Homo sapiens: one gene and its partners. The protein of the gene in region 1 purifies or fractionates together with the protein of each later gene. This does not show direct contact. Each region holds a gene or a part of one and is shown in the gene's direction. Other genes may lie near its edges.

Region 1 (4,413 bases):
AAAGGCATCCTTAGACGGCTTTACACCCATTTATGCCTTGCACTTCATTGCCTCCTGTCCGCTGACTTCAAGACCAGGCCAGTAGCTGGGCACGGTGGCTCATGCCTGTAGTCCCAGCTACTCAGGAGGCTGAGGAGGGAGGATTGCTTGAACCCAGGAGTTCAAGTCCAGCCTGGACAACATAGCGAGACCTCATTTCTAAAAAAAATTATTATTTTTTTTTGAGATGGAGTTTTGCTCTTGTTGCCCAGGCTGAAGTGCAATGGCACAATCTGGGCTCACTGCAACCTCCGCCTCCTGGGTTCAAGCGATTCTCCTGCCTCAGCCTCCCGAGTAGCTGGGATTACAGGCATATGCCACCACACCCGACTAATTTTGTATTTTAAGTAGAGACAGGGTTTCTCCACATTGGTCAGGCTGGTCTTGAACTCCCGAACTCAGGTGATCCGCCTGCCTCCGCCTCCCAAAGTGCTGGAATTACAGGCATGACCCACTGCACCTGGCCTTCTAAAAAATATTTTTAAAAAATTAGCTGGTCCCACTTGGCTCGGGCCACCCTTGGTCTAATCACCCCTGTTCGGGGGGTACAAGTGGGGTTGGTGGTGGGGTGGTCCCCAGAAGCAGGCAAGGCTGCCTCTGGAGCCCAGGGCCTAGGGCAACACATCTCTACCCATTTTTGTGGGGGCAGTTTTGTTTTTATTTCCATTTGGGAAATTGTCAAGTAAATCATGAGGTTGAATAGGCAGAACCACGCTGCCAGGCGGCTCTAAAAGTTTCTCAGTGCCTACACTCAACATATGCTCTCCTCCAGCCATGAGCCGACTTTGCAGACTGTGTGGAGCACTTTATTCCTCTCCTCAGAGGTGGTTCTCGCAGCCACCCCTGCCAGGGGCCCACAAGGCACTTCTCCCAGGGGGGTGGGTGGATGTGGTGGCTTCGAGTCACCCTCCGTAGTGGCATTGCAGGCCTGACCATTTGTCTTAGGTCTGACCAGGGGTAGGAGCGGGGCTGCCTCCTCACAGAATGATGGTGATGTGTGTGTTGCAAAAAACCGCTTCTTTGTGTTGATTTTCCAGGAGAAGAGCTTGAAGTTGTTCAGAAGGAAGTGGCAGAGATGCTGAAGGGCAGAATTCTAGTGGGGCACGCTCTGCATAATGACCTAAAGGTACTGGGCTCTCTCCTGGGGACTCAGCCTGCCCCTGCTCCGTGGGTGTTACACTCACGCCCTTGCTGTGTTGGGGAGTTTTAACAATGTGTGGGTTTGTGCTCTATGTTGGGAATACTTTGGTAATAATATCAGATACCGCGTGCTGAGTTCTTACTGTGTTTTAGGAGCCATGCCAGGCTCTTGTTTTGAGAGCCCCCAGCGAAACTGGGGTACCCATACCAGAGCAGCTGGCAACCCCGCCCTAATGAGAAATGAAGGTGCTGATACCCCTTTTACCTGGAGGAAGGCCTAATGTCCAGTTGTCCCATCCGTGACCAGGGTCCCTCCACAGGAAACAAGTTTATCCTGGCAGATGCCCTGTGGCCCATGTTCAGGTTACGCTTGCCTAACCATCACCCTGGCCCTGGGAGCTTGCCTTTGCCTTCTTTCTGGCGTCCCGAGGAAAATCCCGCCTGGGGCAGCCCCTGGTTCTTCAGATGGAAAGTGCAAATTCAGACACCACCACCGTGGGAAACAAGTTCAAAGACATATACAGACCCTGGGCAGGGAAGGCGTCATGGGTGGGGAGGGCAGCCTGCCATCTCCTGGTCACCCGAGGCAGGAATGAAGAGTCAGGCAGAGCGAGTACGTGTGTATTTACAGGAGAACAGGGTGGGGGTCACTTTGAGTTTATGGGCAAATGCCTGGATGTTGGTTTAAAGGACACAGTGGGAACAGCGGGGAGGCCAGTCTGCTAGATGGGAGAGACACTTAAGTTGTCACCTCTGCCCACCGGCTTGAAGCACTTGGGTGTGGTGAGGAACTTGAAGCCGTTCAGAAGGAAGTGACAGAGATGCTAATGTTCAGGCAGCAGCCTTTGCTATGGTGCTCCCGTGACGGCACTGTAGAGATCCCTTGAATCCATTGAAGATGCTGGAGGTGTTCATGCTTGTTTACAGAGGGTGAAACTGAGGTGAGAACCCCCCGGGCAGTGTCCTCACAGAAAGGTCTTCTGTGTGCTCCTGCTGTACCCCCTCAGAGACTGCTGCCGTGGGGACTCGTCCTTCCCTCCTGACTCTGACTCCATCCCTGGCACCTTGCGCAGCACATGTTCAAGTCTTTCTTGAAGATGATGCTAAGGACCAGACACAGTGGCTTATGCCTGTAATCGCAGCTTTTTGGGAGGCTGAGGCTGGAGGATTGCTTGAGGCCGGGAGTTAGAGACCAGCCTGAGTAACATAGGGGAGACCCCATCTCTATAAAAAATTTTAAAATTAGCCAGGTGTGGTGGCGTGTGCCTGTTGTCCCAGCTACTCAGGAGACTGGGGTAGGAGGATCAGTTGAGCCCAGGAGGTTAAGGCTGCAGTGAGCCATGATTACCCTATAGCACTGCAGCCCAGGTGACAGAGTGAGATCCTATCAAAAAACAAAACAAAACAAAAAATTGCATGCTAAGATTGCAAGATGAGCTGTTAAAATGTGTTATTTGCAACTTCCTGATGTGTAGAACCAACTCAAAATACAAGTATAATATAGGAATAAGTTGGTTGCTGGTTAACTGTTGACTGTTTTTCTCCTACTTCCTTGATTTCAAGATTTTGTTTTTATTGTCTCTGACTGTTGGGCATCAGCTTAAGTCAGTGCAATAAATTTCCTTCTGGAGTTGAAATTCATATCAGTGCCTTGTTTCCATGTGTGTGTGACACACTTGGATTCCCTACAAGATGTTACTTGCAGGGCAGCCGCGTTGGCTCACACCTGTAATCCCAGCACTTTGGGAGGCCGAGGCGGGTGGATCACCTGAGGTCAGGAGTTCGAGACCAGCCTGGCCAACATGGCAAAACCCTGTCTCTACTAAAAAATACAAAAATTAGCCAGGCATGGTGGCGGGCACTTGTAATCCCAGCTACTCGGGAGGCTGAGGCAGGAGAATCACTTGAAACCTGGGGTCGGAGGTTGCAGTCAGCAAAGATTGAGCCACTGCATTCCAGCCTGGGTGACAGAGCAAGACTCCGTCACACACACACACACACACACACACACACACACACACACACACACACACACAAAGATGTTACTTGCAAAAGGTGGCGGGGGGAGGGGGTTCTGCTACTACAAACCAAAAATGAAAATGATTATCATTATATTTTATTTTTCTAGGTACTATTTCTTGATCATCCAAAAAAGAAGATTCGGGACACACAGAAATATAAACCTTTCAAGAGTCAAGTAAAGGTACTTAGAATGAGTGTGACTCAAGATACTGTATTTCTGTTTTGCTGGTCACTTCATTGTTTCTGGTCACTGGTGGCTGACTTGTTGGTTAAAGGGTTTTTGTTTTTTCTTTTAACCTTTAAAACTAGAAGGAATGTTTAAAAATAGAGTTCTGCTAATTGCTGACCTTAAAAATGATTGCAACGGAGGGCAAGTTATTTCCACTCTAACCTCTGAAACAGGGTCACTGACTAAGGGCCTGGTACCACTGTCGTATCTGCTCTAGAGGGTGCCAAGGGCAGAGCCGTTCTTCATCCTTTTTTTTTTTTTTAGACAGGGTCTTGCTCTGTCACCCAGGCTGGAGTGCAATGGCATAATCTTGGCTCACTGTAACTGCCACCTCCCAGGCTCAGGCAATCCTTCCACCTTAGCCTCTGAAGTAGCTGGGACTGCAGGCATATGCCACCACCCCTGGCTAATTTTTTTATTTTTATTTTTTTAGAGATAGGGTCTTGCTGTGTTGCCCTGGCTATTCTCAAACTCCTGGGTTCAAGTGATCTGCCCTCGTTGGCCTCCTAAGTGCTGAGATTACAGGTGTGAACCACCATGCCTGGCCAGAGCTGTCCCTCTTGAAATAAGCAGGGAGGCCTCAAGATGGGAGATGGGGATGCTGACTCCTCCCCTGGCCCTCTCCTTTTATTGGCTGATAGGGGTGTATCACCAGCCCATCATGCTATAAATGGCAGCTGGTGGCTACCACCCTAAGTGCCATGAGCACCTCTCCACTGAGAGGCAAACTGTAGGTCGCTTGGGTGAGGTTCAGTAGCCAACCGCTCCCTGCTTGGTGGGGTGACCCTCTTTGGGCCGAGCCTGCAGAGGCCCCCACCCGCCTCTTCCCCCTTTGCAGAGTGGAAGGCCGTCTCTGAGACTACTTTCAGAGAAGATCCTTGGGCTCCAGGTCCAGCAGGCGGAGCACTGTTCAGTAAGTGTGTCCTGTGGGGTAGTTCATGGGGTTTGGGGCGGTTTCCCACCTGGAACCAGACATGAGTCAC
Region 2 (4,413 bases), on another chromosome or scaffold:
TGAGTTAAAGTATACCCATATAATTTACCATGTTTACCTTTTTTTTTTTTTTTTTTTTTTTTTTTTTTGTTTGAGACAGAGTTTCGCTCTTGTTGCCCAGGCTGGAGTGCAAATGGCGCGATCTTGGCTCACCACAACCTCTGCCTCCCAGGTGCAAGCGATTCTTCTGCTTCAGCCTACTGAGTAGCTGGGATTATAGGCATGTGCCACCATGCCCAGCTAATTTTGTATTTTTAGTAGTGACGGGGTTTCTCCATGTTGGTCAAGCTGGTCGTGAACTCCTGACCTCAGGTGATCCACCTGCCTCAGCCTCCCAAAGTGCTGGGATTACAGGCGTGAGCCACCACGCCTGGCTGATACATTTATATTCTTTTTCTTTTTTTCCTCTCTTCACTCCCTCATGTCTCCCCTCCCCTTCCTGGCTGAATAGTTTCGTTAAGATGTGTCTTGGTTGGGTACCGTGGCTCATGCCTGTAATCCCAGCAGTTTGGGAGGCTGAGGTAGGAAGATTGCTTGAGCCCAGGAGTTTGATACCAGCCTGGACAACAAAGTGAGACCCTGTCTCTACACACACACACACACACACACACACACACACACACACACACACACACACAAAAGAATGAGCTGGGTACCGTGGCACACACTTGTGGTCTCAGCTACTCAGGAGGCTGAGGTGGGAGGATTGTTTAAGCCTGGGAGGTGGAGGCTGTGCTTGAGCCACTACACTCCAGCCTGAGTGACAGAGTGAGACCTTGTCTCAAAAAAAAAAAAAAAAAAAGTGCTTTGGACCAGCCTGGGCAACATAGCAAGACCCTGTCTCTATGAAAAAACACAAAAATTTAGTGGGTATGATGGTGTGCACCTGTGGTTCCAGCTACTCGGGTATGGTGAGGTGAGAGGATCACTTGAGCCAGAGAGGTCCAAGCTGCAGTGAGCCATGTGCCACTGCACTCTGGCCTGGAGAACAGAACAAGACTGTGTTTCAAAACAAAACAAAAAGATGTATCTTGGTATGTTTTTCTTTGAGTTATCCTATTTGGTGTTTGTTGAGCTCCTTGAATCTGTAAATTTATATCTGACCAAACGTGGGGGATTTTCCACCTTTTTTTTTTCAAATGTATTTTTCTGCCTTAGTATCTTTCTTTCTTTCTTTTTTTTTTTTTCCATTTAACCCTGAGTTGACACAGCACATGTTTCAGAGAGCACAGGGTTGGGGGTAAGGTTATAGATCAACAGCATCCCAAGGCAGAAGAATTTTTCTTAGTACAGAACAAAATGGAGTCTCCTATGTCTACTTCTTTCTACACAGACACAGTAACAATCTGATCTCTCTTTCTTTTCTCCACATTTCCCCCTTTTCTTTTCGACAAAACCGCCATCATCATCATGGCCCATTCTCAATGGTCACTGTCTCTTCGGAGCTGTTGGGTACACCTGCAGAAAGGCTGTCACTTCACACTTGGAAGATTGCACAGCGGCCAGTCAGAGGTGCTCCTCACTTCCCAGACAGGGTGGCGGCCGGGCAGAGGCGCTCCTCACATCCCAGATGGGGCGGCCAGGCAGAGGCACTCCTCACCTCCCGGACAGGGCGGCCGGGCAGAGGCGCTCCTCACATCCCAGACGGGGTGGTGGCCGGGCAGAGGCACTCCTCAGTTCGCAGACGGGGTGGCAGCCGGGCAGAGGCGCTCCTCACCTCCTAAACGGGGTGGCGGCCGGGCGGAGGCGCTCCTCACCTCCCAGAAGGGGTGGCGGCCGGGCAGAGACGCTCCTCACCTCCCAGACGGGGTGGCGGCTGGGCAGAGACGCTCCTCACCTCCCAGACGGGGTGGCGGCCGGGCAGAGGTGCTCCTCACCTCCCAGACAGGGCGGCCGGGCAGAGGCGCTCCTCACTTCCCAGACAGGGCGGCCGGGCAGAGGCGCTGGTCACATCCCAGATGATGGGCGGCCAGGCAGAGACGCTCCTCACTTCCTAGACGGGGTGGCGGCCGGGCAGAGGCGCTCCTCACTTCCCAGACGGGGCGGCCGGGCAGAGGGTCTCCTCCCATCCCAGATGATGGGCAGCCAGGCAGAGACGCTCCTCACTTCCTAGATGGGGTGGCGGCCGGGCAGAGGCTGTAGTCTTAGCACTTTGGGAGGCCAAGGCAGGCGGCTGGGAGGTGGAGGTTGTAGCGAGCCGAGATCACGCCACTGCACTCCAGCCTGGGCAACATTGAGCATTGAGTGAGCAAGACTCCGTCTGCAATCCCAGCACCTCGGGAGGCGGAGGCGAGCAGATCACTCGAGGTCAGGAGCTGGAGACCAGCCTGGTCAACACGGCGAAACCCCGTCTCCACCAAAAATACAAAAACCAGTCAGGCGTGGCGGCGCGTGCCTGCAATCCCAGGCATTGGGCAGGCCCAGGCAGGAGAATCAGGGGAGCCCGAGGTAGGGAGGTTGTAGCTAGGTGAGATCACGGCAGTATGGTCCAGCCTTGGCAACAGAGGGAGACCGAAGAAGGGAGAGGGAGGAGAGCGGGGAGAGGGAGAGCGAGAGCTGCATTAGTATCTTTCGCCTCTCCCTCTGGGATTACAACTACACTTAAGTTAAAACGTTTGGTATTAGGGTTTTGTTGAATGTTTTTCAATCTTTTTTTCTCTTTGTTCTTCAGACTGGTTTTTTTTCTTTTCTTTTCTTTTTTTTTTTTTTTGAGATGGAGTCTCGCACTGTCGCCCAGGCTGGAGTGCAGTGGTGCGATCTCTGCTCACTGCAGCGGCGCGATCTCTGCTCATTGCAGCCTCCGCCTCCCAGGTTCAAGCGATTCTCCTGCCTCAGCCTGCCGAGTAGCTGAGATTACAGGCACCCACCACCAGGCCTGGCTAATTCTTTTGTATTTTTAGTAGAGACGGGGTTTCACTATGCTGATCAGGCTGGTCTCGAACTCCTGACCTTGTGATCCGCCTGCCTCGGCCTCCCAAAGTGCTGGATTACAGGCGTGAGCCACTGTGCCCGGTGGAGACTGGGTCATTTCTATTGAACGGTCTTCAAGTTCACAGACTCTTTCCTCTGTCATCTCCATTCTATTACTGAACCTATCTGATGAGTTTTTATTTCAGATGTTGTATTTTTCAGTTCTAAGATTTCATTTGGTTCTTTTTTATGGTTTCTTTTTCTGCTGATGATTCCCACCTTTTCCTTCATTTCTTGTGTGTTTTCTTTATAAGAAAGTATTTCTTTTTTGTTGACAGTATTTGATAGTCCCAAAATCTGGATCACCTTGTGGCTGGCATGTTTTGGTCATTTGTTCCTTTGAAAATTGCTCACATTTTCCTGGTTCTTTATGTGTTGCATAATTTTGGAATTTATCCTCATCATTGTGAATACTTTTTGTGTAGATTTTGGGTCCTATTATAATTCTTCTGGGGAATGTTGCCGTTTCTGTTTTAGCAGGCCACCCTGCTTCAGGTTCAGGCCAAAACTTCTGTCTTGCTTTTGGAGGCATTTGTTAAAATCTCGGTTCTGTTCTTTATGTCTTTGCTATGTTGATTTGAGCTGTCCCAAACATGAATAGCTTAGGGGCTGGTCTGAGACTTCTGCAGGTGTTTCCAATCTTATTTCAGTTCTCCAAGCTTTTGCTGCTTTGGTTTGGGTCACATTAGAGTTCAAATCTCATTTTGGTTTTCAAAGTCTTTGCTAGGCTGGTACGTATGGGTATATGCCACACATTCATGGCTAAGGTTAAGTTGTGACTTATTTGGATTCATACATTGAATTAAGAGATTCTTTTTTTTGCCTGTTTTCTCTCTAGCATTCCTCCCACCCCCAGTCCCCCAACTCTGGTCCACAGGGACCTTTTTTCCTGATTTACCTGGTAAGAAAGAAGGGAGTTTCTAGAATTAAAGCTGCCTATGCTGCTCTGCAAGTGGGGTTCATCCTCATTGCAAATTCTTACTTGAGGGAAAAAGACAGAATTGGAAAACTCACCCCATTTGGGGCACTTCTCCCAACTTTGACTCCCCTGCATAATTTACTTGTTTTTGTTTGTTTTACAGAGTCCAGTGAGCAGGAGGGGTGGGCCTTAGTGGGCTTAGCTGCCCCTCCAGAGCCAGGACTTCTGTGTATTAAATTTGTGTTATTGGACCTCATGTGTGGAGAGCCGAAACTCATTCTTCCCTATTTGTAACATACTGACATAACCAGTCTCTGTTATGTTTACTCATCCCCATTTCCATCCCCTCCCTCCTAGAGGAAACTGTATAAACAAGTGTGATGTTTGCACTTAAATATTTATGACTCCTTTAAAAAATAAGCTTTAAAATAAGCTGCTTTATGTGTGGATTTGTTTTTAGCTTGCTGAACTGACATTGTGCTAGAGATACTGTTTTGTTTCTTTTTTCATTCAACAATATACTTTTTAGTTATGGTCGTGTCTCT
Region 3 (4,413 bases), on another chromosome or scaffold:
GAGGTTGCAGTAAGCCAAGTCACGCCATGCACTGGGCAACGGAGTGAGACTCTGTCTCAAAAAAATAATAATAATGGCCGGGTGCGGTGGCTCACGCCTGTAATCTCAGCACTTTGGGAGGCCGATGCAGGCAAATCACCTGAGGTCAGGAGTTCGAGACCAACCTGACCAACATGGAGAAACCCCATCTCTACTAAAAATATAAAAATTAGCCGGGCGCGGTGGTGGGCACCTGTAATCCCAGCTGCTTGGGAGGCTGAGACATGAGAACAGCTTGAACCCGGGAGGCAGAGGTTGCAGTGAGCCGAGATCATGCCATTGCACTCCAGCCTGGGCAACAGAATGAGACTCCACCTCAAAAAAAAATAAGTAAATAAATAATAACAACAATAATAATAATCAAAGCAGGAATTACTGACTGAATGACCCCAACCCCACCAGATGGTGACAAGCACAATACTCTTGGACAGCTGGGAATTGGTGGATTTGGGATTTGAATCCTCTGTCTAACCCTGGCCCTGCCCTGTGGGATTCTCTGCCACGGCAAAGAAGGGGGTTGTGGGTGATGGCAGGTGTCTTTGGTGGGTTAACAGCATCGTCATCAGACAGTGAGGAGGACCCAGAAGCCTTGGAGAAGCAGAAGAAAGTGCGGCCCATGTACCTGAAGGACTACGAGAGGAAGGTTATCTTGGAGAAGGCAGGGTATGGAGAAGGCCTACATCCCCACCCCCTGGTTCCCAGCCCTGTCAGGTCTATGGGGGTCTTAGGGGCAGGAGAGGGAAAAAAGCTGGCAGCCTGGGCCGGGCATGGTGGCTCATGCCCATAATCCCAGCACTTTGGTAGGCTGAGGCAATAGGATCGCTTGAGGACAGAAGTTTGAGACCAGGCTGGGCAACATACCCCGCCTCTACAAAAAAATTAAAAATTAGCTGGGCATGATGATGTGTACCTGTAGTCCCAGCTACTCAGGAGGCTGAGGCAGGAGGATTGAGCCAGGAGATGGAGGCTGCAGTGAGCTATGATCAGGCCACTGCACTCCAGCCTGGGCAACAGAATAAGACCCTGTCTCAAAAAGAAAAAAGGCCGGGCATGGTGGCTCATGCCTGTAATACCAGCACCTTGGGAGGCTGAGGCGGGCAGATCACCTGAGGTCAAGAGTTTGAGACCACCCTGGCCAACATGGTGAAACCCCGTCTCTACTAAAAATACAAAAATTAGCCAGATGTGGTGGTGGGCGCCTGTAGTCCCAGCTACGTGGGGAGGCTGAGGCAGGAGAATCGCTTGAATCTGGGAGGTGGAGGTTGCAGTTTTCCGAGATCATGCCACTGCCCTCCAGCCTGAGGGATAGAGCGAGACCCTGGCTCCAAAAAAGAAATGCTGTCACCCATGATTGGAAAAGAAAAAAAAAAAAAAAACGCTGGAAACTCACCAGAATCGCAGATAGCCCTGAGAGCAGGAGTCTCAGTGATTCCATAGCCCTCCGATGACCCCCGCCAGCTGTTGCTTGGAATAGCTGCTCCGCATGGGCATGGGGACAGGCGGGCCCTGGAAGATATATTCTGAAGACCCCACTTTTCCTTTACAGCAAATATGTTGATGAGGAGAACTCAGACGGGGAGACTTCCAATCACAGACTCCAGGTGGGTGGGGTGAAGGCTGGGTCGGGGGGCTGAGGGGCCTGGGGCTGGCCTGAGACCTATGGCCCTCTCTGCAGGAGACATCGTCGCAAAGTTATGTGGAGGAACAGAAACAGCTCAAGGAAAGGTGAGGCTGGGTGGGCGGGAATGGCCCAATGGAGGAAAGTTGAGGCTCGGGGGTTGGATAGGCACGGGTTCAAATTGAGCTCTGTCACTTTCTATGTGCTTCAGTTTCCTCATCAGTTAAACGGGGTTAATAACATCACAGCACTGCTCTGAGCTTGTTGAGAGGAGAGCTCAGGGCTTAGTAAATGGGGTTAATCTTGGGGCAGCCAGCCAGGTGAGGTGGCTCATGCCTGTAATCTCAGGGCTTTGGTGGGCAGAGGAGGGAGGATCACTTGAGCCCAGGAGTTCAAGATCAGCCTGGGCAACATAGTGAGACCCCAGCTCTACAAAATAAAATAAATACTGGGGCAGCAGACAGGGGCCAGCCTGCCTGTCCTGAGGCTTGTTTTCTCTCGTGGGCAGCTTCCGGGCATTTGTGGAGGACAGTGAGGACGAGGACGGCGCTGGGGAGGGCGGCTCCAGTTTGCTGCAGAAACGTGCCAAAACCAGGCAGGAGAAGGTGGGTACTGGGGCCTGACTGGACTGCTGGGGGACAGGGTGGCGGGTGGCTGGGCATCTGCGGATGCTCAGTGCTAGCTTTCCCCCAGGCCCAGGAGGAGGCCGACTACATCGAGTGGCTGAAGGGACAGAAAGAGATTCGGAACCCAGATTCCCTGAAGGAACTGGTGAGTTCTCACGCATGGTCGCTGATGGAGTAGACCGCGTGTTCCGCGTCCATCCAACCTATTTACAGAAAGTAACCCTCTGAAGATGGGATATGTACATCTCTGGGCCTCAGCTCCTACATCTCTTTAAATGGGGATAGGCTGGGTGCCGTGGTTCACACCTGTAATCCCAGTGCTTTGGGTGGTCAAGGCAGGAGGATTGCTTGAGGCCAGGAGTTTGAGACTGGCCTGGGCAACATAGCAAAATGGCTCTACAAAAAAATGAAAAAATTAGCCAGGCATGGTGGCATGCACCTGTAGTCTCAAATACTTGGGAGGCTAAGGTGGGAGGATCTTGTGAGCCCGGGAGGTTGGGTCTGCAGTGAGCTATGATCACACGACTGTACTGTCACCTGGATGGCAGAGTAAGACCCTGTCTCGAAATAAAAATAAGAAACCAAAATGGGGCTAATGTCACCTACTCCAGAGGCTGGCTGTGAGGTCCATGTGGTGAGCATGCCTGCCCTCCTTCCCTGTCCTCCATTGACCAGAGTCCTGTCTCCTGTCACCCCCAGACGCATCTCAAGGAATACTGGAACGACCCTGAGTTGGATGAAGGGGAGCGGTTCCTGCGGGATTACATCCTCAACAAACGCTATGAGGAGGAGGAAGAGGAGGAGGAAGATGAAGAGGAAATGGAGGAAGAGGAGGGGTGAGCCACTGCATCTCCCCAGGACCTAGATTTTGGGTGCGCTTCATGAAGTATTCCCAGGCGGCACTGGCCAGGAGGCAGAGGGCACCATGTGTGTATTTTTTTCACAGATGGTGGCAGAGTTAGTCTTCTGTAAGGCAGAGCCACAGAGTATAGGCTCTGGAGCCAGGTGGCACTGCCTCAAATCCTGGTTCGGCTTCAAGACTTTCATGCCTCAGTTTCCCCATCTGTAAAATGAGGACAATAGCAGCGTGCACCTTGTAGGGTTCTTGTGAGGATTAAATGAGTTCATACGCTTCGTACCCAGGCGTGCAGGAAAGGGGGGCTCGACCTCACTTGGCTGGCCCCCTGGCATCACCACATCTTGCCCCTCAGGGTCCACGGTCCCCCAGTCCAGCTGGCTGTGGACGACTCCTCAGACGAAGGGGAGCTGTTTCTGAAGAAACAGGAGGACTTTGAACAGAAGTACAATTTCCGTTTCGAGGAGCCGGACTCAGCATCGGTGTGTGGCTGGGGCTGGGGAGGACTCAGCCCCCAGGGTTCAGGCCCAGGGAACCCCACATCATCTCTGCGGCCCTTGTGGGCTTTTCTGATTGCGCCTAGGTCAAGACCTACCCACGCAGCATCGCGTCCTCCGTGCGCCGTAAGGATGAGCGCAGAAAGGAGAAGAGGGAAGAGACTCGGGAGCGAAAGAAGAGGGTGAGTGTGGGGGGTGAGCTGGGGAGGACCCCCCAGCCCTGGAGGAAAGCCCATGCCCTCCCCCTCTCTGCCTGGGCCTGCAGGAGAAAGCAAAGAAGCAGGAAGAGCTCAAGCAGCTGAAGAACCTGAAGAGGAAGGAGATTCTGGCCAAGCTGGAGAAGCTGCGGAAAGTAACAGGCAACGAGATGCTGGGCCTCGAGGAGGGGGACCTTGAAGACGACTTCGACCCTGCCCAGCACGACCAGCTCATGCAGGTGCGGCCCTCATCCCGGCCCAACATGACGCTGAGTTCACACAAACATGGCTCTCACTGGCCACGGTGGCTCACGCCTGTAATCCCAGCACTTTGGGAGGCTAAGGCAGGCAGATCACCTGAGGTCAGGAGTTCGAGATCAGCCTGGCCAACATGGTAAAACCTCATCTCTACTAAAAATACAAAAATTAGCCAGGTGTGGTGGTGTATGCTTGTAATCTCAGCTACTTGAGAGGCTGAGGCAGGAGAATTGCTTGAACCCGGGAGGCAGAGGTTGCAGTAAGCCGAGATCATGCCACTGCATTCCAGCCTGGGCGACAGAGGGAGCCTCTGTTTTAAAAA
Region 4 (4,020 bases), on another chromosome or scaffold:
TGGGTATTTTTCCAGCAGCCTTTTAAAGTTCATATATAAACACATACACATAGAAACAACTCAACTTTGTATTTTAATGGAAAGAGGATTATGCTATATATTCTACCACTTTTTTAACCTTAGCATTTAATCATGGTAAACACATTATAATGTCACTACTCTCTTTATGTAAGGTTTATTTAATTCTTTGCTTAACAAACACCATAGTTCTGACTATGTGCCTTCCAGTTATAAATGCCTTACAAAAATTTAATTTTCATAACTCTGAGGTAGCTACTATTCTTGTTCCTATTGTACATGTGGGAAAACTGAGGTCCAGAGAGGTTAAGTGTCTTGGCTTGAGTAGCAGTGCCAGTCAGTGGTAGAAGTGATATTCAAATGTAGGCAGTCTGGTTTTTCTGCTTCTTTCTATTTCTCTTGATATAGGTTATTTCTTTTTTTGCTATTACAAATGATGCTATAGTGAATATCTTTATGTATTTATCTGATGTAATTATTTCTATCAGATTTCTAAAAGTGTGATTGCAAGGTGAGAAGCATATTTTTTTCTTTTGCAAGATAAAATTAATTTTCAAAGCAAGCAAAGATAAAATTTTTTTTTGCAACTCTTGTTCTTACTATATAAACTTAAATTGTTTTTTATTAAATCTAGGTGTAAAGACTTTATGCAAAGCTCTTATACAACCATAAATTTAAATGCAAATACAACTACAAACCAGTAACACCTCTTATATTAACAATGTTAATTTAACCAATTCTTTTTATGTGACATTTTTGCAGACTTTCCCCAAAACAGATCTACTGCTTGACAGTGAATCTCAGGGAAGTGGAGTTTTCCTTCCTGAACTGGATGAGCCTGAGTACTGCAATGCTCAGAACACTGCTCTGTGGGAACTGCATGCTCTGCGGGTAAGAGTGGCCCTGGTTTTTTTCTTTTTGGGGATGTTTGTGAATAATTGTTTTCCAGTTTTTCTTCAAATAGTTGTTATTGCCAGAGTACTTAATTATATTTTGTTCTGGGGCTGCCTTTTTTAGAATTCCTGTGTTAGTATGCTACATTTTACTTTGCTGTTACTATTCTTTAAGCTGTTGAGGTACATTTTCTAAGGAAGCAGAAAACAGTGTCAGTTCTGTAGGGTGCAGTTGTGGAAGATTTACTGAAACCTTTCCCTTTATTGAAATCTTTCCCTAACACTCTTCAGAGGATTTGTTATCAGGTACATTTCTGTTGAGTCTTATCCAAGGAGACTTTAGTAAGCCCTGTTTCAAGATGGTTTCACCTATGCAGTGATCCTACAGTATGGACAGCATTAGAGTGAGACTTGTAGAAAATAGAAGTGGCAGGTAACCTGTTGTAAATTAACTTTTTTCACTCTGAAAGAGGAATTGCTTTTTGATTTTTCTATTTATATTGTAAAAGCAAGACTAAACTACTTCACTGGTAACTTGATTTGTGTTTTAATCCTATTAGCAAAGATAATATTCTTTCTGTGGGTATGTGCTTCTAATGAATTACATATACTGTACATAGGTGATGAAAAAAAATTTGGTGTAATTTTATTTAAGAAAATCTTTGCTGTGGCTAGTGTTTTTTGTAAAGGACTGACCTGTGCAGAATGTGATTGTCCCGTTTTCCCTTCAGAGGCATTATCATCCCATAGTGCAGAGATTTGCAGCCCACCTGATCGCTGGAGCACCTTCTGAAGGCTCTGGAGCACTCAAACCAGAGTTGAGTCGAAGGTAATATTTAGCATTGCCTTATTCTAAAACTACAGAATTGAGCTGATAGCCACTTACTATGAGAAGACTGTTTCATAAAGTAACATACTACAAAATGTAAAGTGCCAGTTGGGTATCTGGATTGGTCTTGCTTCATATTCCTGAATTGTTCTGAAAGAAAACATGCTATGATTTTGTTGATCACTTAAAACATTTTTTTTCTTCTTCTGTCATTCAACTTGAAAAACATTTTTTTAATCGTGAAAAGTTTCGCACATACAGGATAGTAGAATGGCATAGTGAATGTCCATATGCCCCCCATCACTCAGGTTCAACAATGAATAATCTATGGCTATAGGTGCTTCATGTGAAGATAAAACACAAGTCAACCAAATTAAGCTTCCTTGCTTTCTCGCTCGCTCGGTCTTTTTTTTTTTTTTGAATGGCCCTGTTAGGGCAGGATGAGGAGAAAAAAAAAATGAGGAGAGGGAAGAAAAGAGGTGCTTTGGAACACTGCCATCCAGAAGGGCAGCTTTTTCTTTTTTTGGCCCTTGCAGAGTACCTTCTGACCTATAAGCAGCTTGGATGGGTACTTCCAGCATCTACCTCACACCCAGATGGGGAAAAGGTCCTCCTAAAAGAGTCTTCTTTTCCCTGAACTGTTTACTTACAAAATTTTCACAAGTACAGAAAGGTGAAAAATAGTAATTACTTTTTTTTTTTTTTTTTGAGATGGAGTCTCACTCTGTTGTCCAGGCTGGAGTGCAATGGCGCAATTTCGGCTCACTGCAACCTCCGCCTCCCGGGTTCAAGCGATTCTCCTGCCTCAGCTTCCCGAGTAGCTGGGATTACAGGCACCCGCCACCATGCCCAGCTAATTTTTGTAATTTTTGTAGAGATGGGGTTTCACCATGCTGGCCAGGCTGGTCTCGAACTCCTGACCTCAGGTAATCCACCTACCTTGGCCTCCTAAAGTGTTGGGATTACAGGCGTGAGCCACTGTGCCCAGCCAGTAATTACCTTTTTTTAAATACAGACAGGAAATACTTAAGTTATACAGAGAAAGAGAGAAAATGGTATAAAAAATCCCTCAGTCCATTTATGGTGCCATAAAAAATGCCTAAGACTGGGTAACTTATAAACAACAGAGGGCCAGGCTCAGTGGCTCACGCCTGTAATCCCAGCACTTTGGGAGGCCGATGCGGGTGGATCACCTGAGGTCAGGAGTTCAGGACTAGCCTGGCCAACATGGTGAAACCCCATCTCTACTAAAAATACAAAAATTAGCCAGGCGTGGTGGTGGGTTCCTGTAGTCCCAGCTACTTGGGAAGCTGAGGCAGGAGAATTGCTTGAACCCGGGAGGCGGAGATTGCAGTGAGTCGAGATCTCGCCATTGCACTCCAGCCTGGGTGACAAGAGCGAATCCGTCTGAAAAAAAAAAAACAGAAATTTATTTTCTCAGAATTCTGGAGGCTGGGAAGTTGAAGATCAAGGTGCTGGTAGGTTTGGTTGACTGATGAGGGCGCCTCTCTGCTTCTGAGATGGCATCTTGTTGCTGCATCTTCTGGAGGGGAGGAACCCCATGCCCTCACATGGCAGACAGGACAGAATGGGAGCAGTGCCACAGCTTCACTTCATGAAGCCTCTTCTATAAAGACTTTAACCCATTTATGCCAGAGGTTGCAAATTTTTTTTGTGTGTGAAAAATCAGACCTTGGCGATGACCTTGAGCAGTAGGATATAAATAACTCCTACAAGCTTAGTGTTCTGATAATGGAACACTAGTAGGCATAAATGGGTTAATCCCATTCATGGCTTAATCACCTTTTAAAGCTTTTGCCTCTTAATACCATCACATTGACTGTTAAGTTTCCGTATCTGAATTTTGGAGGGGACACATTGAAACTATAGCACCTTACAATGTACTCATTACCCAGAATTAATATTTTGCTGTAGGTTTTTTCCGTTTGCAAGCCCATTGGTTTCTGTAATTCAGAGATCATAGTTTGGTGACCTGTGGGCCAGGCCGATTTTTCTGGCCTCAAGAGTTTGAAAAAAATTGAATTAGTTGCTGTCTTTTAAATATTGAAAGAATTCATCTGAAATTCACATTTCCCGCTTTTCTTGAAATACTGGGAGGTTTGGTGACATTGGCTTGTATTTTACATGACAGTAGTCAGTCAGTTGCTGCCTCCTCTACATGAGGCAAGAGCTCTGCAGTTTTCCATGAGCCCTTTCCTTCTGAGTAGGATGGAGATAACTTTTGGCCTTATTAAATAAAATGGCCATTTACTTTTTCTT
Region 5 (4,413 bases), about 130 Mb from region 1:
GAAAACAATTTTTGTTTAGGTTTGTCTTCTCCAGATCCTTTTTTGTTTTTATTTTTTCCTTGCCTGGGACAAATTTCCTCCCTTTGTTTCCAGAGAACTGAAATGAGATCTGAAGTCACTGTAATGTATTTTTGTTTTTCAGATGATTTGGTTGAGTTAAGTAAAGCCAAATATTCGAGAAATATTGTTAAGAAATTTCTCATGTATGGGTAAGTTGTTTTATGTATAAAATACATTTTTTCTTTGTCTTTTGAAGACATGGTTTCCAACTGTGCTCAGATGCGAGATAGGAAGTCTGTGGTCTTTATAAGTAATAGTAATGGCTCTCAGCAGATGCTTGTGTTGTTTTTAGAGAGTATCATCTTAAATACAATTATCGAAATTAATGTAAAATTATGGTACTGCCTTCATTCCTAAAAAGATACATGAGAAATGTCCTGCAAATCTCCTTGAAATTTATGACTTTGATGGAGGTATACCCTCACCTTCTGATTTGTTGGCATTCAAAAGTTTTAAAGACAGAGTGAGCAACAGATAAGCACTTTTGAAGTAGACTGGTATTGTAGCATAGTAAAAATAATTTTACATGATGGATGATTTGTGAATGTTTATCTTGAACCTCTGGAAGAAGAGAAATAGAATAATTAACTTATAATTAGCCACCAGTATTAAGAGGGTGGAGACTGGGGAGGGACAGGTGAGTAAACTGATAGAGGGTCAGTGGGTTAGAAAATGTCAACATGGGAGAATTTCCTAAATTAAGTGGAATTAGTACTTGTCTTGACCAATCTTTTTGAGTGTATTAATGTGCTAGAATATGATAATCAACAACAAAAAGTGTAATATATGCAGTTGACAAAATTTTCAAAAATGTATTCCTAGCTGTAGTTTCCAGCTGTTTAATTCTTTTAGGATATAGTTAAAATACTTGTGATTAAGTCCCATCTTCAAAAGGAATCTTAGAATATGATTTTCTATTTCCTTGAATCTTTTATCTTTTTTCCTGCCCTACTGTTTTTTTCGAGCAGAACAGTTTAATAGGAAATGACATTTATTGAGCATTTACTATGTGCTGGCCACAGCTTCTCAATGCATGCTAGCTCATTTACTCCTCAGAGTGACACAGATTGATGAGTTGGTCTTGGGAGAAGTAAGTTGTGTTTTATTGTCACCCAGCTTTCTCCTTCTATCATTTATTTTTCCATGATTGTGTTGCGTTTAGAAGTAAACCACAGATTGCAGAGATAATCAGAAGTTTTAAAGGCCACGTGAGGAAGATGCTGCGGCATGCGGAAGCATCAGCCATCGTGGAGTACGCATACAATGACAAAGCCATTTTGGAGCAGAGGAACATGCTGACGGAAGAGCTCTATGGGAACACATTTCAGCTTTACAAGGTGACATCTCCAGAAGTCTTTTTCTAGTATTTTTACTTTTCGATATGCTCTTCCTTAACTTCCGGTGCCCTATATATCTTTTGAATGTATTTTTACTGTGGCTGGTTCTTTAAGAGACCATCTTATGCCCTTGATTTTCCCTCATGCTTTATTTTGTTTCTGGTATAGTGAGCAAGTTTCTCTTTCTCCAGAGCATTGGCTTTAAATCCCCTTCAATTCAAACTTTGTTCCTCTCCTGAGTGCTCTGTGTGTAGCACTTCAATACTTCTATTTTTACAGTCATACTGAAGGACAAGACTCCCAATAGTTAGCAAAGTTGTGTGACCACCCCCAACCAGCTCTGGCTGAAGTGTATTGGGCTCTCTGTTGCTAGCTTCTCCTGTGTTTTTTCATGTGCATGCATTGCCCTTCTTCAGATTGTGTCTGGAGATGAAGGGGAACAGAGAGACCTAACCTTGGATAGAGTACAGGGATTGAATCTGAGAATAGTTAGCAGTGGGACTAGCTGGTTAAAGAATCTATTTCAAACCTTGGAACATAAATGCACACATGTGTCTGAAGGGATATGGATTGATTCCCGGGTTGCCTCCATTAGCCAGGTTCAATTCTTGGGTTGAATTTGTTGCTGTACTAATTTTGTTAACAGTTCGTTATATTTAATAGGAATAGCCAACTAATTATAAAACATATGGTGGCAAGAATTTGTGAAGTGACTACTTGATCTCATAATTGGGCAAGAGCTAGGTGCTTGGCAAGTAACTGTTAGCTGGTTAACTTGGTTGGCCTGGCTCTTTAAATGCACTGATAGATACACAGACTGAGAATCAGCTAATCAGGTTACTCCACAAGGATATACAGCAGAGCTTTCATTATGTAAATATGGGAAATCTTAAATTTGTTAAAACTTATTTTAAAATGACTAATTACTTTTCTTTTTCCTGAAGTGAAAAAATTGATTAAATTTAGAGGGGTTTGATTGTTTTGTTTTGTTGCAGTCAGCAGATCACCGAACTCTGGACAAAGTGTTAGAGGTACAGCCAGAAAAATTAGAACTTATTATGGATGAAATGAAACAGATTCTAACTCCAATGGCCCAAAAGTAAGAAAGTTGTTTTTGTTTTGTTCTTAAGAAATGACATTCAAAGGAGGAAGGTTTTCCATAACTGTTGCCCAGAAGAGGTAGCTATTTCCTGCTTACAAGTATTAATCTATTCTAAATAAGAGTGCAAAAGTGTTGGTTTGAAACCATTCTTGGTGCAAAAGGAGATTTCTTTTTCTGATATTGTACCCTATAAAATGATAACTAACATGCATTCGTGATTTATGAGCTTTTTTAAGCAATGAAACATTCTTTCCCCAAATAAAATGTTACATGGAAGCCATGTATACTAAACAGTTTCACAAATATAATCTGTTACTCAAATTTGGTTGTAGGCAAGGTACAGTGGCTCACGCCTATAATTCTAGCACTTTGGGGAACCAAGCTGGGAGAATCACTTGAGGCCAGGAGTTCAAGACCATCTGGGGCAATAGCAAGACCCCATCTCTACGAAAAAATAAGAAAATTAGCCAGGCTTTATGGCATGTGTGTATAGTCTTGGCTACTTGGGAGGCTGAGAGGCAGGAGGCTCACTGGAGCCCAGGAGGTCATGGCTGCAGTGAGCCATGGTTGTGCCACTGCATTCCAGCCTAGGCAACAGAGTGAGACCTTGCTTTAAAAAAATAAAAAAAAATTAAAAAATGGATTGTAAGACTTGGAAGCCTGTGCATGTGCCCTTCATGGCATCTGTCCAGTAGTGGAGTGGCTGAGCATAGCTTTTGGGACCCGACTGCCTGGGTACGACTCCTGGTTCCCCACTCCCCCAACTATTACTAACTGCAATCTTTGGCAACTTAACCTCCCTGTGCCTCAATTACCATATTTGTAAAATTGGGATAATAATAGTACAGACTTCATAGGAATTTTGTGAAGATTAAATGGGTTGGTTGTTCCAAAACACTCAGAACAGTGCTTTGCCCATAAAGGCAGTGTTAGTTTTTGCTGTCTACTTGGGTATCACCTGTGAACTTTAGGTCTTTTATGCCTGACCATCGGCCTCCACTGTACACCTGGATCCACCAAGTGTCACACTAGGGGGTTTGGATTAAGTAGGTGTTGTTGCAATTGCTGACAATGTTTGGTTCATTCAAGTTTTAATTCTGCTAAAATTATTTTGTGAAACAGATGGATTGTGAAGGGTGTTAACAGAAATAAAACAACTATTAAAAAAATACATCCACATGTGGATTTCTAATCATTATGTCCAGTGCTGGGGGAAAAAATGTAGATGTCCTTATTTAATAGAGCAGAGCATATTTCAAATGTTGATTTTATGTTTGCCGATTAAATACTAGAAGTTTATACTCTGGTCTTGGTTGTAGATGGCACTAAATCAATTTTACCATCTAAATTTTTGTTTAAGTTTTAGTATTTCTGAAAAATACAGTCTATTTTATGACAAATTGTATTCAGTAAAACCATTTCACTTGTTTAGATTACTTTAGGACTTTGAGATTACCTGTCTTTGTATGACTGTAGTGCCAGATCTGTTGTGTCTTTTTGCTTTTTTTTTCTGTTTTCAGGGAAGCTGTGATTAAGCACTCATTGGTGCATAAAGTATTCTTGGACTTTTTTACCTATGCACCCCCCAAACTCAGATCAGTAAGTTCTTGGTTTTTGTTTTTAAACTAAAACATGGAGGAGGAGCGGTGTAGAAATTTGAAAAACTGCTTTGATGTACGTTGTCTTGTGGAAATTTTAGAGTTGCTTCCTTATTTAGGGAAGATAATTTACTCAACTCCCTTTGAACACGTTTGCTAATTCCATTTAGGTTTTATTCCAGTAAACAATAGAATTGACCCTAGTTTTACTAATCATATTAAATTTTTATATCTTAATTATAATCCAGAGAGTATCCGCTGGCTAACCTAATCTGAAAATTAACTAACTCGTGGAGGAATATTCAAGCATTCGGAT
Region 6 (4,413 bases), on another chromosome or scaffold:
CAAGGGACAACTGTATTTCCCATTTAACAGATGAGCAGATGGAGAACAGCAAGTTGAAATAACTTATTTAAGAGCATTCAACTAGGAGGAGAGCTGAGATTCCAATCTTAAGTTGGCTTAACTCCCAACTCTGTGCTCTTTCTACTACCCCACAATACCTCTATAATTCTATAGAACTTGATGAAATATACCTTTAGATAACTTCTTTTAGCCCATCTAATTTCTAGTTTGTACTTGCAGGCTGCCCCTTTTTCTTCATTTGAATTCTCTTAATCCATTTTGAGAGGGTATCTTTCCTCAAACACTAACCTCTTTGGTTAGATCAGGTATGCCTGGCTTTTTTGTTTACATTTCTTTTCAAAACCTTCAGATTTTTTTGTTTGTTTTTGTTTTTTGTTTTTTGGTTTTTTTTTTTTTTTTTTTGAGACAGAGTCTCGCTCTGTCACCCAGGTTGGAGTGCAGTGGCACGATCTTGGCTCACTGCAAGCTCCGCCTCCTGGGTTCACGCCATTCTCTTGCCTCAGCCTCCCGCCCAGCTAATTTTTTGTATTTTTAGTAGAGACGGGGTTTCACCATGTTAGCCAGGATGATCTCGATCTCCTGACCTTGTGGTCCACCCGCCTCAGCCTCCCAAAGTGCTGAGATTACAGGCATGAGCCACCGCTCGCAGCCAACCTTGGGATGTTTTTAATACTCCATACACATTAATGCAGAGCTTCTAGTGGGATATTTACATTTTTTTTCAGGCTTCCTGTGTATTTATGTATATCTTTAATAAAGATATGCCTTTTGAGTTTTTAATGATTTTTAAATTATACAGCAATGACAAGTGCTTTTAAAAAAATTAAAAGGAAATTTAAGCAGAATTGACAGATAAGGCAGAAGTTCTTCAATCCCTGTTCTGTCTCCTACTCCCAACTTTGCCTAAACCCCCATTCCCCAGCCAGGCCACTACCCTTAGGAGTTTATATCTTTCTAGACCAGTGCTGTCCAATAGAGCTTTCTGTGATGATGGAAATGTCCTGTATCTGTGCTGTCCAGTCCAGTGGCTTCTAGCAGCAGGGGGCTATTGAGTACTTGAAGTGTGGCTAGTGCAACTGAGAACTGAACTTCTAATTTAATTTAATTTAAAGTAATTTAAATTCAAATTCCCTATGTGGCTAGTCACTATTGTACTGGACAGTGCAGTTCTAGACCTTTGTATATGCTTTTTTGTTCACTCATAGACAAAATACTGATTTGTGTGTGTCTCTATATCATAAACGGTCTTATATGTATGTGTTGGTCTGCAACTTGATTTTTTTTTTTAACTCAGCAGTGTGTCTTGGAGAACCTCCCATCTTATTACATAAAGACCTAGCTCATTGTACTTTTTTTCAAATTCCTAATTTTGTCAGTAATTTCCTTTACTAAAATGGATGTGTCAGGTTGTGAAATTCTTTGGGGTTCCCCCCCTCCTCATTATCTTTGATTTGCCATTAAGTGCTGTGATCATGATAACCCGCTGAGAAAAAGTTTGATTTTATTGAGTAATCACCCCATGTTTTGGATTCTTGGGCATGCTATGATTAGAGGCTTTAAAAACCACACTATATTTTCACCACCATTGGCACCAATGACTGTTAACAAAGGAGCCAAGTGCACCGTGGCCAATTAATTTCAGAAGACTTTCTGTGGGCTGGCTGAGATAGAGCTAGGATAGGGTTCCAACCCTGCACTTGGTACTGTGATCTGTTGCATTGGTTCTCAGACTTCAGTGGATGTAAGAATTGCTTAGAGAGCTTTAAAAAAAGTGTGGATGCATGTGTCCTCACCCCTAGAGGCTGTGATTAGTAGACCCAGGCAGCTGTGCTTTTAAGACATACTCAAGTTGATTCTGTCACATATCTAGTATATTGGAAAGAGTCTTAAACTAGTCCAGATGTCACCTTTGGTATTCACTGTAGCAGTGAGCAAGTTTGTTGATTGTTTTGTATCTTAATGTTCTCAACTATCGGAACAAAAATATTCCTTGCTTTGGTAGCCTTCCAGGTTGTGAAAATAAAAAGACATGTGCAAAATACTTTTGGAAATTAAAAGTTGCAAAGTTTTGTAAAAGTATAAAATTCATCTTAAACTAATGCTATACTATGGACCCTGGTGATGGTAAAGTGATTGTTTGATCCTCGGTTCTCTAAGAGTTACAGTTCAAATATGTGAAAAACTTCCCCAGTCTGAGATACTTGACTCAGCTTTGATGTTCTTATTTTCAACATTTTAAAAAATTTTTATTTCACTTCAAGTTGTGGGATACAAGTGCAGAACGTATAGGCTTGTTACATAGGTATGTGTGCCATGTTGGTTTGCTGCACCTATCAACCCATCATCTAGGTTTTAAGCCCCACGTGCATTAGCTATTTAACCTTAATGCTCTCCTTCCCCTCGCCCCACTACCCCGAGTGGCCTGGTGTGTGTTGTTCCCCTCCCTGTGTCCATGTGTTCTCATTCTTCAACTCCCACCTATAAGTGAGAATATGCGGTGCTTGGTTTTCTGTTCCTGTGTTAGTTTGCTAAGGATGATGGCTTCCAGCTTCATCCATGTCCCTGCAAAGGACATGACTTTTTTTATTTTTTGAGGTGGAGTCTTGCTCTGTTGCCCAGGCTGGAGTGCAGTGGTGCAATCTTGGCTCACTTCAACCTCCGCCTCCCGGGCTCAAGGGATTCTCCTGCCTCAGCCTCCCAAGTGACTGGGATTACAGGCACCCACCACCATGCCTGGCTAATTTTTTTTTTGTACTTTTAGTAGAGACAGAGTTTCACCGTGTTGGCTGGGGTGGTTTCGAACTCCTGACCTCTAGTGATCCTCCTGCCTCGGCCTCCCGCAGTGCTAGGATTACAGGTGTGAGCCACTGTGCCCAGCCTGATCTCATTCCTTTTTATGGCTGTATAGTATTCCATGGTGTATATTTACCACATTTTCTTTATCAAGTCTTATTATTAATGGGCATTTGGGTTGGTTCCATGTCTTTGCTATTGTAAGTAGTGCTGCAGTAAACATATGTGTGCATGTGTCTTTATAGTAGAATGATTTATATTCTTTTGGGTATATACCCAGTAATGGGATTGCTGGGTCAAATGGTATTTCTGGTTCTAGATCCTTGAGGAATCGCCACACTGTCTTGCACAATGGTTGAACTAATTTACACTCCTACCAACAGTGTAAAAGCGTTCCTACTTCTCCACAGCCTCACCAGCATCTGTTTCCACATCTTTTTAGAACCTTTGCTGCATGTATCAATTTTTTTTGACATGAATTTTTGTGAAATTTCCTAGTCTAAAAAAGAAACCGATATCTCAAGTTAAAATCTGTTAGTTATGTTAATTTTGGCATTGGTTTGTATGAAGTTTTAATATTTAAAAAAACACAGCTATATCAGGAAGCTGAAAGTGCTGTGTCAGGTGGAAAATTTTTTTATCAGTGGAGATGTGTTTATACGTTGTCATGGTTTTACTCTAGTCTAGGACATTTTGTTTCAGCCATTTTCTAAAATGGCTGTAGGTTCCATTTATTAATATATCTCTGCTATTATGTAATCTGAGCAGTGATATTATACTTCTTGGTATTGTACATAGAATCTAATAGAGTTAAAAGCTTTTTAATAATATTTGCTGCCACCTCACCAAGTTATGATTGTTAGAAACAGTAATTGCTGTGTTTTGACACTGTCATTTTGTACAGTGCAAGCAATCATTTTTACCACAATTATCACATTTTTTCCACTACCAAATAACTTAACAATGAAGCAAGAAAATATTCTTCCCAAATATTTATTATTACCAAGCTTCTTAACGTAGGGGTTTAACTTTTACAGGACGTTAGCCAATTAATCTTACCTTTACCTTAAAGCGTGTGCTTCTATAATGCTTTGTTCAATTTATGTTTGCTTTAGTGACCTTAAAAATTGTTAGAGACTCTTGGAGGTATAAAAGTTGAGAACACATAAAACTAAAGCAAGGATCTGTTTTCTTTCAGGTGCAAGCTGTGGATGAAGCAAGATATAGAGAGTGTTTGAGGATGTTGTTTGCACCACAGTTTATTTTAAATAGTTACTGTAATGACCAGTTTTAAATTGTTAGATAATCTCCAAGGGAGATGAGCTAGAAGGATATAAGACTGAAAAGAGGATACATTTTCTTTCAGGTGAAGGTTGTGGATGAACGAAGGTACCGGAAAGTCTTTGAAGATAGTGTACGCATCATGGACAGAATGGAAAATGACTTCCTTCCTTCCTTAGAACTCAGCAGGAGGGAGGTGAGCAAAAATACATGATCTCCCTGTCTACTGCTCACTGTGGTTAGCACAGAAGAAACTGCTACTTAGAAAAGGCTACATAGCAACGTGGTTAAGCCCATGTCGCTGGAGTCAGACTGCCT
Region 7 (4,413 bases), on another chromosome or scaffold:
GCCAGGTGGTGGTACACACCTGTAATCCCAGCTACTTGGGAGGCTGAGGCAGGAGAATCACTTGAACCCAGGAGGCAAAGTTTTCAGTGAGCTGAGATTGGGCCACTGCACTCCAGCCTGGGTGATGGAGTAAGACTCCGTCTCAAAAAAAAAAAAAAAAAAAAAAAAAAAAATCTATCTATCTATCTATCTATCTATCTATCTATCTTATGGTTTGAATCATAATTTGAATGGAAATGTCTGACCCAAATTCATTCAATTATGTGAACTTTAAAAGAAATATTAATTTTTTAAAATTTTGAGTACATAATTATATACAAATACAAATTTTGAGTGACAGTTTTTATAGCCACTGTCCATTTCCTATAGAAAATGCCATTTTTCTACTGCAGACATTCCAGTTAATAAAATGAATAGTCCATATTTGCTCAATTCATTTAAGCAATTGCCGTCTACAAAGCCACATATATAACATTGTTCCTGAGATTTATGGATTTATTGATTGAGGTTTTCAAAAGCAATGAAACCCTCTGATGGAAAGGATATCTCGTTGTTTAGGAACGTATGAAAGCTTTTTTCTACAAATATTGAGATTTCAGAAAAATAGCTTAATAAGATGAGAAATGTTTTAAATATGTTTTTGATAACAAGAATTAATAAAGTCACTGGTATAGTTTTGCAGCGTGCCAACCTACGTTTTGTTTTCCTAGGTGTGTTTCCATTGTAGAAAACCTGGTCATGGAATTGCAGATTGCCCCGCCGCCCTTGAAAATCAAGACATGGGCACTGGGATATGTTACAGGTGTGGGTCCACAGAGCACGAAATAACCAAGTGTAAGGCTAAAGTAGACCCGGCTCTTGGTATGTGTTTCTTTCAGTTTTTTGTTTTGTTCATGGGGAAAGCCAATAAATAGCACCTTGGGTATTTTTTTAACACAATTTGTTACGAGTGTGCCACTTAGTATTTGGAAATCATATGAGATTAAATTTTAAGTTATGTAAATATATTTTTTATTCAGAGTATTTTAAAATAATGTTAATTTTATGACTTGCCATATGTATTGTCAACTGAATAGGAACTGTTGATTTTTACAGGCGAATTTCCTTTTGCAAAATGTTTTGTTTGTGGAGAAATGGGGCACCTGTCTAGATCTTGTCCTGATAATCCCAAAGGACTCTATGCTGATGGTAAGTACTGTTACCCTCATATAGCAGAAATGGTGAGTCATCGTGCAGTTGTGATTTAATTTACACTCAATCACAGTTCTTGAATAAATTCTTGAATAAATTGCAAAACCTTGAGAATTACATTATTTTTATCAAGTGCTATCATATGTACTAGGCTTTTTGTGCAATTTGACTTCAGATGTTAATAAAACAAATCAGAAAAAACTAAGGTGTATATTTCCAACTGTGCTTGCTTCATCATTTGTGAGACTATGTCATACATTTCTACTTTTAGACATAACAGAAGCAGAGAGATTATATCTCAAGCTAATATGAGGTTTTTAAAATCGTATTATATATTCAGCCTCAGCCAGCATATCATTTTGGTGGAGGGGTGGGTACAGATGATTCAATATTGTAGTAATGTTTGCTTCTGAATTTTTTTTCTTAGTTATTTGTCTGGTATGGGATCATGTAGCTTTTTTCTCTTTAACTCGGGTAATTAAGGTTCACACAGTAAAGTCTATGCGGTCTAAAGCTTTAAGGCGGAGGTTGTTATCTGTTAATGTGATGGCTGGTGCCATCAGGCTCTAGACGTTTCTTGTGTCATGTCCTGGGTTTCCCTCCTGGAGAAGTCCAGTGAAAAAGCATAGCTTTTGGAGTTGGTCAGACTTGGGTTACAGCGCCAGCACTGCCACTCACTAGCTGGGGGGCTTTGGCCAACTACCAAACTCTGATCTCCGTTTCCTCACCTATAGAGTGGAGATGATAAAACTATATTTTATTGATTCTAAGATGCACAGTTTTTCAATTTTAATCTCTTGGAAATCAGAATGTATCTTACCGTTGGTGGGTCCCATATAATTGACAGCTGTTTTTCTTTCTGAGAGGTATGTGCAATAATGATACATCTTATAATCAGTGGTGTCTTAGAGTTGATGAATTATGGTATTTGCCTAAAGAATTTTTATAAGGATTAAAATGTATTATTCAAGTGCTTCTCTTTCACTATGGCATATAAAGAGGCCAGGGCCTGGAAAATGCTCAGGTGCATTTCAGTTTTGAGCTTATAAAACTGGGTAGATAACATGACTAGTGAGCAAAAATGGCTTTCACTGGTCAACCAAAGTGACTAGCTGTAAAAAAAAAAAAAAAAAAAAAAATTAATGCAGCAAGGAGAGTAGATCCCATAGATGTGAAAATTTGGCCATATTTGCCTGTGTGTGCCTTGATTTTATACCTTGTAATCTTTTGTTTACAATAAGGGGCTTTCTGCGATTTGTTTTAATTTAGAACACTTTAGTAGCAATAGAAACACTGGATACATTTTTGTATGGTACATTTGATGTATATAGAATTAGTACTTTATTTTTAAGAGGTAAAGCATTATGTTGGGGGAAAAGTAGGGTGGGTTTCCACATTTGCATTTTTATGTTAAAAATAAAGTCAAGATTTGGGGGAAAAAAAAAAGAAAATTCAGCCAGATTTGTATCTGATTAGGTCATTTTTCTAAGTCACTTAACATTTCGAGCATGATCAAGATAATGCTTGACCATTAAGCAATAGTGTTTGATCATTAAGTGAAACACTTATTTTAGAAACCACATGTGTTGTAATTCACAATCCTGGAATGTTGTTTAAAGTAGGCAGGTGGGCATTTTTATAGGGTTAGGGTGCCTGGCCAGTGGAAGGCACTGAAACAAAAATTAACTTTATTTCTTTCATAAATGCTTACCCCCATCTGATCTGTACAGTAGAACAGTAGTTTCTAATCTGTTTTTGGGCCATTGACTGTTTGAGAATCTGACATGCTATTCAGGAAAGTGCATCTGCTTACATCTTTTGTTTACAGGTCCAAGGGTTCACAGACTCTTGATTGTCTAAGCATTGTTAAGATCCAGGCTTCTGTGCAATAGCTCTTGAACAAGTGCCTTCCATCATATCTCATTTCTTTTTCCTACTTCTCAAGGCCAGGTGCAAGAAGCAGTGGGTGGGTACAATTTAGTGCTCTGTGAGGTTAAAAGGAATGGAGAATGAATTAATAGGAATAGTGGCACCTCCCTATGATCCTGGTCTAGCTACCTTTACAACTGACAGGGTTGTGAGGATCCAGTAAGATGTGAAAGTGCTTTGAGATGTTAAAAACCCCTTGCAAGTATGAGATGGTATTCAGTGGCTTTGCTCTTTCAATAGGTGGCGGTTGCAAACTTTGTGGCTCTGTGGAACATTTAAAGAAAGATTGCCCTGAAAGTCAGAATTCAGGTGAGATCTCTGGGCCTCTACTTAGAAGGGGTGAGATTAGTATTCCTCTGCGTTTTATTCTGCACTTGTTATTAATAACTCAATTGGGATACTAATGATTTTAAGACAACCTGTTTTCCTACTGTAGCAATGACTTAATCTCTGTCAGCAATAGACACACATAGTATTGAGTAACTGAATAGTTGGGGGAAAAAAGTGACCAGTAAGCCTTAGGGGACCCTGACTTTATAAGACACCTGATTCATAAGCATTTATATTTGCTAACTAATGAATTTAATATAATAGAGCCAATTCTGTTACTTACAGAAAAATATGAATTCACTGAGAAAATAAAAAATATGAAATAACTTTCAATAGCCTTAATATTGAGTGTCCTTATGTATGCTTTGCTTTGTATGTACCTAAAAGATTCAGAGTTGATTGCAGAAACTACCAAAAATATTAAAAATGTGTTATCTACACAGTATCTGGCGATTTTCTTCCTGATGAAATACCAGCCTTATTCATCAAACACTTCAGAGATGTTCACTCTACCTATGGCAGACTTTTAAGGAAGTGGAGATCATTATTACATTAGTTTGCCTGGACTAGAATGATAATCCTATGTGAAGGAAAGCAAGAAGACAGTAGGATAGCCCAGCAGTGCTTCTTATGGAAAGAGCACTTTTTTTTATTTCACGTAGTCACAACACTACGCAAATAAGTCTGCTCATTCTTACTTCCTATCCCTAACATTTAAATTTGAAAACCAAGAGTTCTTATTTACAAGCTTGTCTAGAAGATAGTCTTTAGTACATTGTAGGCAGTGAGATTGAAATGATGAAGTGGAATTTGAATTCTCCCTCCTGGGAGGATTGCCACTTCCCAAATGACAAGACTGACAAGCAGATGTTGTATAATTTCACAGGTGGAATCTTGTGCATTTAAAACTGATGCTTCATAAGCCTTGCTGTTTACAGACTCTTGGAATTCATTGACTCTGTA

Evidence for each region.
Region 2: the proteins of REXO4 (region 1) and ZNF512 purify together in Homo sapiens (affinity purification with mass spectrometry; 3 studies listed by BioGRID and IntAct, with this or other methods). This does not show direct contact.
Region 3: the proteins of REXO4 (region 1) and KRI1 purify together in Homo sapiens (co-immunoprecipitation; 2 studies listed by BioGRID and IntAct, with this or other methods). This does not show direct contact.
Region 4: the proteins of REXO4 (region 1) and NOC3L purify together in Homo sapiens (affinity purification with mass spectrometry; 2 studies listed by BioGRID and IntAct, with this or other methods). This does not show direct contact.
Region 5: the proteins of REXO4 (region 1) and PUM3 purify together in Homo sapiens (affinity purification with mass spectrometry; 2 studies listed by BioGRID and IntAct, with this or other methods). This does not show direct contact.
Region 6: the proteins of REXO4 (region 1) and OCRL purify together in Homo sapiens (co-immunoprecipitation; one large-scale study listed by IntAct). This does not show direct contact.
Region 7: the proteins of REXO4 (region 1) and ZCCHC9 purify together in Homo sapiens (co-immunoprecipitation; 2 studies listed by BioGRID and IntAct, with this or other methods). This does not show direct contact.

Annotation. Positions count from the first base shown.
Region 1 is NC_000009.12:133,407,737-133,412,149, reverse strand, and holds part of REXO4 (RNA exonuclease 4), read left to right. Parts: intron 1-1,076; coding exon 1,077-1,165; intron 1,166-3,307; coding exon 3,308-3,382; intron 3,383-4,268; coding exon 4,269-4,343; intron 4,344-4,413.
Region 2 is NC_000002.12:27,592,630-27,597,042, forward strand, and holds part of ZNF512 (zinc finger protein 512), read left to right. Parts: intron 1-4,413. UniProt on the Homo sapiens protein: May be involved in transcriptional regulation.
Region 3 is NC_000019.10:10,559,018-10,563,430, reverse strand, and holds part of KRI1 (protein KRI1 homolog), read left to right. Parts: intron 1-593; coding exon 594-702; intron 703-1,585; coding exon 1,586-1,640; intron 1,641-1,714; coding exon 1,715-1,764; intron 1,765-2,165; coding exon 2,166-2,262; intron 2,263-2,350; coding exon 2,351-2,428; intron 2,429-2,982; coding exon 2,983-3,119; intron 3,120-3,494; coding exon 3,495-3,621; intron 3,622-3,722; coding exon 3,723-3,818; intron 3,819-3,901; coding exon 3,902-4,072; intron 4,073-4,413.
Region 4 is NC_000010.11:94,335,497-94,339,516, reverse strand, and holds part of NOC3L (nucleolar complex protein 3 homolog), read left to right. Parts: intron 1-780; coding exon 781-909; intron 910-1,642; coding exon 1,643-1,740; intron 1,741-4,020. UniProt on the Homo sapiens protein: May be required for adipogenesis.
Region 5 is NC_000009.12:2,826,758-2,831,170, reverse strand, and holds part of PUM3 (pumilio homolog 3), read left to right. Parts: intron 1-142; coding exon 143-209; intron 210-1,222; coding exon 1,223-1,397; intron 1,398-2,392; coding exon 2,393-2,496; intron 2,497-4,019; coding exon 4,020-4,098; intron 4,099-4,413. UniProt on the Homo sapiens protein: Inhibits the poly(ADP-ribosyl)ation activity of PARP1 and the degradation of PARP1 by CASP3 following genotoxic stress. Binds to double-stranded RNA or DNA without sequence specificity. Involved in development of the eye and of primordial germ cells.
Region 6 is NC_000023.11:129,570,960-129,575,372, forward strand, and holds part of OCRL (inositol polyphosphate 5-phosphatase OCRL), read left to right. Parts: intron 1-4,180; coding exon 4,181-4,291; intron 4,292-4,413. UniProt on the Homo sapiens protein: Catalyzes the hydrolysis of the 5-position phosphate of phosphatidylinositol 4,5-bisphosphate (PtdIns(4,5)P2) and phosphatidylinositol-3,4,5-bisphosphate (PtdIns(3,4,5)P3), with the greatest catalytic activity towards PtdIns(4,5)P2.
Region 7 is NC_000005.10:81,307,851-81,312,263, forward strand, and holds part of ZCCHC9 (zinc finger CCHC domain-containing protein 9), read left to right. Parts: intron 1-710; coding exon 711-861; exon of another isoform or gene 862-1,095; coding exon 1,096-1,188; exon of another isoform or gene 1,189-3,124; coding exon of another isoform or gene 3,125-3,176; intron 3,177-3,360; coding exon 3,361-3,429; intron 3,430-4,413. Other genes in the region: ACOT12 (acetyl-coenzyme A thioesterase), read right to left, coding at 3,125-3,176. UniProt on the Homo sapiens protein: May down-regulate transcription mediated by NF-kappa-B and the serum response element.